Linked DNA regions of Homo sapiens: all the other regions are linked to region 3. The links come from fine-mapping of genetic effects on gene expression. A gene starts in region 3. Each other region holds a variant in brackets. All regions are shown on one strand. Distances are between the middles of the regions.

What was found.
Region 1: its variant is fine-mapped to the expression of IGFBP3 in whole blood (INTERVAL, PIP 0.99).
Region 2: its variant is fine-mapped to the expression of IGFBP3 in whole blood (TOPMed, PIP above 0.99).

What each region holds. Positions count from the first base shown.
Region 1 is chr7:45,943,712-45,946,476 of GRCh38, forward strand. All of the region lies in intron 1 of LOC102723446 (a long non-coding RNA gene), which reads left to right. Among named protein-coding and RNA genes, the nearest start is that of IGFBP3, 24 kb to the left of the region's middle. The variant A/G (reference allele first, on the strand shown) is at 1,395.
Region 2 is chr7:46,008,344-46,011,108 of GRCh38, forward strand. All of the region lies in intron 1 of LOC105375264 (a long non-coding RNA gene), which reads right to left. Among named protein-coding and RNA genes, the nearest start is that of IGFBP3, 88 kb to the left of the region's middle. The variant G/T (reference allele first, on the strand shown) is at 1,525.
Region 3 is chr7:45,919,842-45,922,571 of GRCh38, forward strand. It overlaps IGFBP3 (insulin like growth factor binding protein 3), which reads right to left and starts at 1,431. Exons shown (of 5, transcript NM_000598.5): 1 at 897-1,431. The coding sequence starts at 1,299. RefSeq lists enhancers at 1,234-1,814, 1,815-2,395.

The DNA.
Region 1 (2,765 bases), 24 kb after region 3:
TTTATCATTATAAAACAACTGTATTCATCTCGAGTAATTCTTTGGCCTTCTTTAGAATTCTTTGCATCTATTCTCTTCTGATGTTAAATAGAACTACCCCAACTTTCTTTTGGTTAGTTATGTATGCTATCTACACAGTTATTTACTCTTACAGCTTTCAATATGTACCCAGCAAATTTAAGCGTGTCTCCTTCGCACACCACAGCATTAGATTTTGATATTTAAATCTAGTGATTGATATTTCACTCAAACATCCAGTCTACTTACCATTACTGTACTTACTAATATATTACGGGGTAAACCAACCATCTAATTATGTGTTTTCTATTTGTCTGGTTTTATGCCTTTTCTCTTTCTTGCCTTCTTTTTTGGGTTGATTATTTTTTTCTTTGCTCACAGTAACACTCACTCTTTTTGGTGTACAGTTACATGAGATTGGCGAATGCATGCACTTATGTAACCACAAGGCAGCGTCATCGCAAAACTCTCCCCTGCGCTGCCCATTTGCACTCAGTTATCTCATCTCCACTCTCTGGCAACAACCAATGTGTTTGTGTTCCTCTAATTTTGAATTTTCCAGAATGTCATATAAATCAAATCATAGTTGAGCATGGTTTCTGTCAGTTATAACGATGTGTTTGAAATTCATTCATGGTGTGTGTGTGTGTAATAATAATCCATTCCTTTTTATTGCCAAAGAGTATCGGCCAATAACATTAACTTTGGATGCACCACAGCTTTTTTACTCAGTTGCAAGTTAAAGAACATTCAGTTGTCTAAGCTATATTCCAGGACCAGGCACACCCTGAGGGGATATCTTGGAGAAAAAATAATGGGGAAAATAGGGGACTCCCATGTACACTCGTTTAGCCTCAGGAGCCCTTTTCTTGGTTTCTCAGGCCTAACACACAGAATCCATGAATTCTTAACCACCAATGTTGAACAGTCTATGATTAGGACTGCCTTTGGATCCATGTTGTAAGAGAAAAGAGAAAAAACAAAACTAGAAAACACCTCCTTTTAGGCTACTTTTCCGTGTTTTGACTCTCCCCACAATTGTTGACTTTTGTTTACTAGATATTTTAGTTGTAATCAGTGATTTTTGTAGCTGTAGAGGTCTAATCCTAGCTAGAAGGAGCTTTCCTAGTTGATTAATTTTATGATTTTATAATGCTTTTTCCTGGTAGTTTTGAAGTGTTTTTTTTTTTTTTTAGTCATCCTGTAGTATTTCCTAGAAATTACAATAAGCCTTCTTAATTTATAAAATTCAAATATTAATTGATAATTGTACTCTAGTCCTGTGAAGCAAAAGCACACTCAGACATTTCAGTTCTATTTGTCCCTTTCCTGATTTCTATGCTCTCGTTGTCATATATTTTAATTTCACCTGTATA[A/G]TCTACATCCTAAAAATGTTAGTGTTCTTGTTTTAATACAGTGTTCATTTCAATATAGTCTCACAATTCTTTTGATCCCTTTCTGCATCTTCAATTTTTCATCTGTGATAATGCTCCTTCTGCCTGAAGTACATACTTTTTTACATTTTTTAGTGTTCTATTCTATTGTATTTAGTATTCTATTCTAATAAATAACTTATTTCAGTTTTTGTTCATCTGAAAACTTCATGTTACCTTATTTTTTACCAACCAGCCAAGTGTCCTGTATAAAATGAAAAACATGCATTGATTGTAGTAGTTTCTGGCTAATGTTATATAGAATAATTAAGATTACTTTATTTTTTCTGTGGAATAAGCCTCATATTTTTGATCCTTTAAATTGAATTGCAAGAGCCAGATGATGTGATCTATCTATTTCTTTTTTGTAATATATTAATATATCAAATTATTTAAGCAATCTCAGTTTCTTTTCTTTTGCCTTTTCACTTTGGTTCATTTCATAAAATAGGTGTTATTTTCAGTTTTGCTGGTACAAAGTTAATTCATGATTGCTTTATGTTTTTTGCACCACGTCATTTTCAACATTTATTCATTTCCCATCATTTATATGCTGCAAAGTGTTATCACTAACAATGTATTTTTCTGTTTGCTTGCTCTTAAATGTGTAGACTTCTAGTTAGGTGTGGTGTTTTTTACATGAACAGTGAATAATGACTTTATAGGTTTCCTCATCATTCTCTTCGAATACCATTGTGGATCCTAAGGTTCAAGTCTTGATGCCAGTTTAGTGAGGGGAGGGAGGGAACTAAAGCTTTGATTAATTTTTGGAAAGGAAATTTGCTTCTCTGTCTGTGTCTTTTCTCCTCTGGGTTTGGCAAATCTCATTTTTTTTTTTTAGTACCAGTCTTGACATGGCTGAGTCCCATTCCTGGTGGAGGGTGGAGAAGCATATTCCTTTTTCTCTTTGGAGAGGAGCTAACTCCCCACCTTGCCTGTTGCCTTCTCCTGCTGTTTGCATAAATGAAGAACTCTTGCAGTCCTGGGAAACTGTCCTGGGAGACAAAGTCCCATAGACCTGAGCCTTTTCATCACTACCCACAGATTCCACTGCAATGGCCGTCAAAGCCATCTGAGATGTAATTTTCATTTTCTCCTCTACCCTCCAGTTTGGGGGTGCATTGGAGTCTCAGATCTTCATTCGTATCCTTTGGGTCCATACTGCTTCTTCAGTGTGGTGAAGTTTCGAAAAGTTCCAAGAGTTCTTAATAAACCTGGTCCCATTTTCACTGTTCCTAATAAAAATTCTTTTGAGTTTTGGAATTTTTTGGCTTCCAGTCTTAACATTTCAGTTTGCACATTTTCCTCATAGGA
Region 2 (2,765 bases), 89 kb after region 3:
TCTCTGGGGTCAGTGGGGTTGTTGAAAATAAAGACTGTGATATTATGAGTGATGTGCTGCTGTGGGAGAGGATGGATCTCAGTAGCAAGAACTACCCCCCCCAGTGACACCTCATGTCATCATCCTGGACCGCTGGTGTAGAGTCATTGAATTTTGTGTGATGTTAACATGGATGGCTCAGATCAGTAACACAGAGGCAAGGAAAGAGGTACCATGAATGGGAACAGTTCGGGGAAGCTTTATCAACCTCTCCAGACCTTATTTCTCCATCTAAGTGAAGGAAGAGTGTGATGTGAAGATGTCATGTGTCAGGTGCCAGCTCTAGTGCCAGTCATGTGTCAGTGCCCAGCTGAGGCTCACTCTTCCTCCCTTTTCTTGCTTCTCAGCTTCCAGCCTAGAATCCTTGTTCTGCATGCTGGGAGAGAGCACCAACTTTGGAGTCCCCCAGCCCTGAGTGTGACTATGGGTTCTTGCTTTTCATGAGTGTTTTCGGGCAAATTTTTTCACATTTCTAGGCCTCAGTTTCTTCTTCTGTAAAAAAGGAAAAGCACTTATGTCATTGTGTTGTTTTGAGGATAGAAAAATACTGTGAAGCATTTAGTATGTTTCGAGCACATTGTATGCACTCAATTCATGGTCACTATTATTTTATTTACAAATATAATATAAATATAAATATAATAAAATGCTTCCCAACTAGTCCGCAAAAGAAGACTGCCTGAAACGTATTGATATTTTTCTTTTTGATTTCTGGAGCTGTCATATGCCAAATGCTCTTGGGATGCAGAATTCTATTTTTCTGGAAATGAAGTCATGGGTCGAATGATTGGCAAAGAAAGTCATATTACATTTTGTTTTTTATTCTCACAAAGTATGAAGTGGATCATTGGCAACCTTAATTTAAAATAGTGCTAAATAGAAAGTATATGTAACAGTACTTATTTATTCTGGAACTTTAAAACTATAGTGAAAAATTTTCTAGACCAGGAGTCAGCACACTTTTTCTGAAAAGGACCAGATGGTATATATTTTAAGCTTTGCAGGCCTTCCTGTCTCTGTCACAACTACTCAACTCTGCTGTTTAGTGCAAAAGCAGCTGTGAACAATATAGAAATGATGAGTGTAGCTACGTACCAGTAAAGCTTGAGTGGTGTGACATTGACTTGTCAGATTCCCCCTCTATATCTTGCTTTCCTCATTACAAAAGGAGCGTCAGTCTGAGGATGCTAAACAATGTACTTAAATGTACCTAGCACAGTGTCAGGCATGAACTAATGGAGCTCACTCTGGCCTTTTATGCCATGGGTCCACAGTCCATGTGCTGTTCATGGTTAATTTAATTTTGGAGTGGTGAAGGAATTTCGTGATCTATCTATTTGTAGCAACTGGGGTGCTGTGTTGAGAACGATTCTGGGACTGTCTGGGCTTGGCTGAAAAGTATGCGGTGACGTCCATTCCTAGACTAGGCAGTGTTTCTTCTTTTCTTGTTATGTTCCCTGTATTTCAGCCATTTTTTTCTTCTGG[G/T]TTCTTCAGTCTGGTTTTTTTTTTTTTTTTTTTTTTTTTTTTTGCAATCTCATATCACCCCTTACCTTCACTCACAGTGGGAAGTGGGTATGTCTATAGTTCTGGGTTGGAGAGGAGTTGTTGACATGACTATTTCTTTAAAATTTTCTATGGTTTAAACTCTAATTTTAATCTGATGATTAAGCAAAATGTACATTTTAATTGATTAATGTTTTCTTAAGGTATAGGATAAAAGTATTTCCACGTCTGTCTGTCTTTCTTTCTGTCTGTCTGTCTTTTCTTTCTTTCTTTCTTTCTTTCTTTCTTTCTTTCTTTCTTTCTTTCCTTTCTTTCTTTTCTTTCTGTTTCTTTCTCCCTTCCTCCCTTCCTTCCTTCCTTCTTTCTTTCTTTTTCTTTTTGAGATGGAGTCTCCCTCTGTTGCCTAGGCTGGAGTTCAATGGCATGATCTTGGCTCACTGCAACCTCTGCCTCCCAGGTTCAAGCGATTGTCCTGCCTCTGCCTCCCAAGTAGCTAGGATTACAGGTGTGGGCCACCATGCTACAGGCTAATTTTTGTATTTTTAGTTGGCCTGGCTGATCTTGAACTCCTAACCTCAGGTGATCTGCCTGCCCTTGGCCTCCCAAAGTGCTAAGATTACAGGCATGAGCCACCGTGCCTGACCTCTACATGTATGTTTTATGTGTGAGATGTTGTCAGTCTTAATTTAGGAAAAATCCTTTTTAATTTTCTAAGGTTTATTTTTTCTTTTTTTATACCCCAGGATTGTCATATAAATCTGTCTTCTGCAGTGGAATGCAGAAGAGGAGATTACAGTTCTGAAGCATCATTGTCCACACCTTTCTCTTGCTGCCCTCCCAGCTGGAGGTGGACACCACCCCTGCAGCGCAGAGCAGGGAGGCTGGCCCAGTACTGCAGGGGCTTCATGTGCAGGCTGATTCCTTTCCTGTGTTTGCAAAGTTGGAGGCAGTCCACAAGGCAGCTTTCTGCACCATCTGCAGAATTTATAGGTTCTTAAGGTCACCCTCAGGTTTGATAATTTGCTAGGTGAGTTCTTACAGAACTCACTGAAAACTGTTATACTCATGGTTATGGTTTATTTGAGTGAAAGTATACAGATTACCATCGGCCAAGGGGGAGATGCAGAGCGGAGTTGAGAGCTTTCCAGACGTGGAGCTTCTAGTTGTCCTTATGGTGGAGTATGGACAATGTCAGCTTCTGCTGGGAATGGTATGTTACAATG
Region 3 (2,730 bases):
TGGCTAAGCCAAGAGGGTAACTCTGCCAAATGTTTGCATTTTTCCTCTTCTGGGGCTCCCCTTAACAACATCTCATTCCCCCCCCCATTTCAGATTAAGAAGGGAGACAGCCCTAGGACTGATTCCAATTCCCTTCCGTGTCATTGAAATTGACTTAGTCCACATTGCCCGCACCCACCACGCACCTGGAAGTTTGTTTGAGGTCGGCGCAGGTGCAGGGGTGGCCCGAGTTGTAAGAATGGTATGGTACTGAAAGTGGCACGCGGAGTTCAAACCTACACTCTGTTGTGGCCGCTGGGTAACCTTAAGAAGTTACTTCTTTTTCAGCTTCAGGTTTTCCAACCGCAGAAGATATCAAAACCCGAATCCACTTTACTTGTTTTTGGACATACCGGGACTAGACATTGCTTTGCAAACCAAAAGGCTGTGCAAAGTCAGTATTTTAAAAGAGAGGTACTATTTCCTACAACGTGCCTGCCCACCTTCCTTGGTCCAAATCCGCCTATATCCCCCCCATCCCCAAGCATCCCTGGGATTGCAGTCCGTGTGCACCCCCGTGCGGGGCGAGGAGAATCTCCTGTGTCCAGGATCTTTCCAACAGCTAAACATCGGTACCGCTCCCCTCAGCTCCGGAAACCTTTAACCCATTTTCACTGAAAGCGCTTTGCAATTTACAAGTACTCTGCACTTAGAGAATCGAGCAAGTAGAGGGCCGGCTGGGGAGGGTCCCTCCGGCGACCGCCTTCACCTTTCCCGGAGCGCCTTCAGTTTCCCCACATATTATCTCCAGTGAGAAGAAAAGCGGAGTCTCCCGCAGCGGCACCCAGCAACCCCCAGGCCCTTCGGCGCCAGTGCGCCGGGTGCTGCACGCAGCGCACCTGGCGCGGGCGGCTCACCTGGAGCTGGCGGCGCTGGCAGCAGGTAGGCGCGCAGGCGGCTGACGGCACTAGCGTTGACGCAGAGCCCGCGGCCGTCCAGCAGCGCCTGCAGCGGTCGCGCCTCGTCGGGCGACGGCTGGCAGCGAAGGCCGGAGCCACAGCGCTCGGTGTAGATGCCGCACGGCTGGCCCTCGCTCAGTGCGCACGTCAGGCAGCAGCCGCAGCCCGGCTCGCGCACCAGCTCCGCGCACACGGCGGGCGGAGGCGCGCACTGGGCCAGTGCACGCGCGTCGCACGGCTCGCAGCGCACCACGGGACCCAAGCCCGCCGAGCTCGCGCCAGCCCGCGCCACCGGCGGCCCGCGGAGCAGCACCAGCAGAGTCAGCGCAGCGGCCCAGAGCGTGGGTCGCGCCCGCTGCATGACGCCTGCAACCGGGGCACGCTGCTTGGCAGGCTGGGCGCGCAGGGATGGGGCGACAGTACACGGCGCGAAGCTGTGGAATCCAGGCAGGAAGCGGCTGATCCTCAGCGCCCAGCCGCAGTGCTCGCATCTGGGCGGCCCGGGCGCGCCGGCCGCTATATAGAAGCCGGGGTGGCCCAGGACACGCCCCGGAACGGCGCGCCCAGGAGTGGGGGTTGGGAGGGGGGCGGGTCGGCGCAGGCACGGCTGCGGGGGCCCGTGCTTCGCCCTGAGCAGCCGGGGCCGAGCTCGGGGGCGTGCAGCTCGAGACTCGCCCGGGCACCTGCTCCTCGTGCGCACGCCCGGAGCCCGGGTCACCTTGTCGTCTACAAGAACCAAGGTGTGCCCGGCCACCCCGGCACTCCAGGCCACCTCAGCACCCCCGGTCACCCCAGTCACTCCTGGCCAACTCAGCACCCCCGATCTCCTTGACCCCGCCGCCCTTACCCCTTCCGCTCTCGGGGTGAGGTCTCCCTGCGGCGAGCCGGTGTCGGGGAAACTGGCATACAGCGCTCCGCATTCGTGTGTACCTCGTGGAGCTTTCTAAAATTTAATTCCGTTGGCAGGCGAAGTCTTGGGACATTTCTGACTTACATTTGGGTCTCAGGGAGCCAAGGCACTGCGGGGTTTAATTTACACCCGCTGGGCTGTTTATATCCCCAGGGGCCCACAAATACGCATCTGAAGATGCGCCCGGGGCCTTCGCCCCTTTCCAGGCTTACTTCTCAACGCAAGAAGACTCTCACGTGTTGCTACACCGCAAGTCTCCAATTAAGAGTGGACCGGCAAGCGAATGCGTCCTTAAGGCAGGGCTTTTCAAATATTTTAAATGACAACTGTTCTTCTTGTCTTGGGTATTCTCCCTGATTATGTTTTCAAATGGAGTTTACACCCATGACAAAAGAATAATAAAGACAATAAACTGGGCACTGCTGAAACGTAATTAACCAAATAGTCCTTTAATAGGCAATTTTCATTGTCATTTTTTGAAGGCGACTTCGTATTACTGTATTCTCGATGCGTTGGGATTCTAGCTTATCTCTGCAATCTAAACACTTTTCAGTAAAGTTCGGGGGCGCAATTGCGCGCTGAGGTCGCTGTAACTCCTGTCGGCCTTCTCTGGCACTCGAGTTTCTTCAGTTTTGTCTGCGCACCCCCTCCCTTCGGTGACCAACAGAGGACGCTGGTGGTCCAGGATTGGATTGAGGATTAAATTTTTCAAGGCACTTTTCCAAAGAGTTTGTGGGGGTGGAGTGGGAAGCGGTGAGACCTCCGCGGGAGGAGACTTTCCTGAACGCTGTTGAAATTGGACGCTTGCCTTAGGAGGTGGATAGGTGACTTGAAGGAGCCCTTTGCAGTTTGGAGTAGTAATAGCAAATCAGGAGCTCCTCC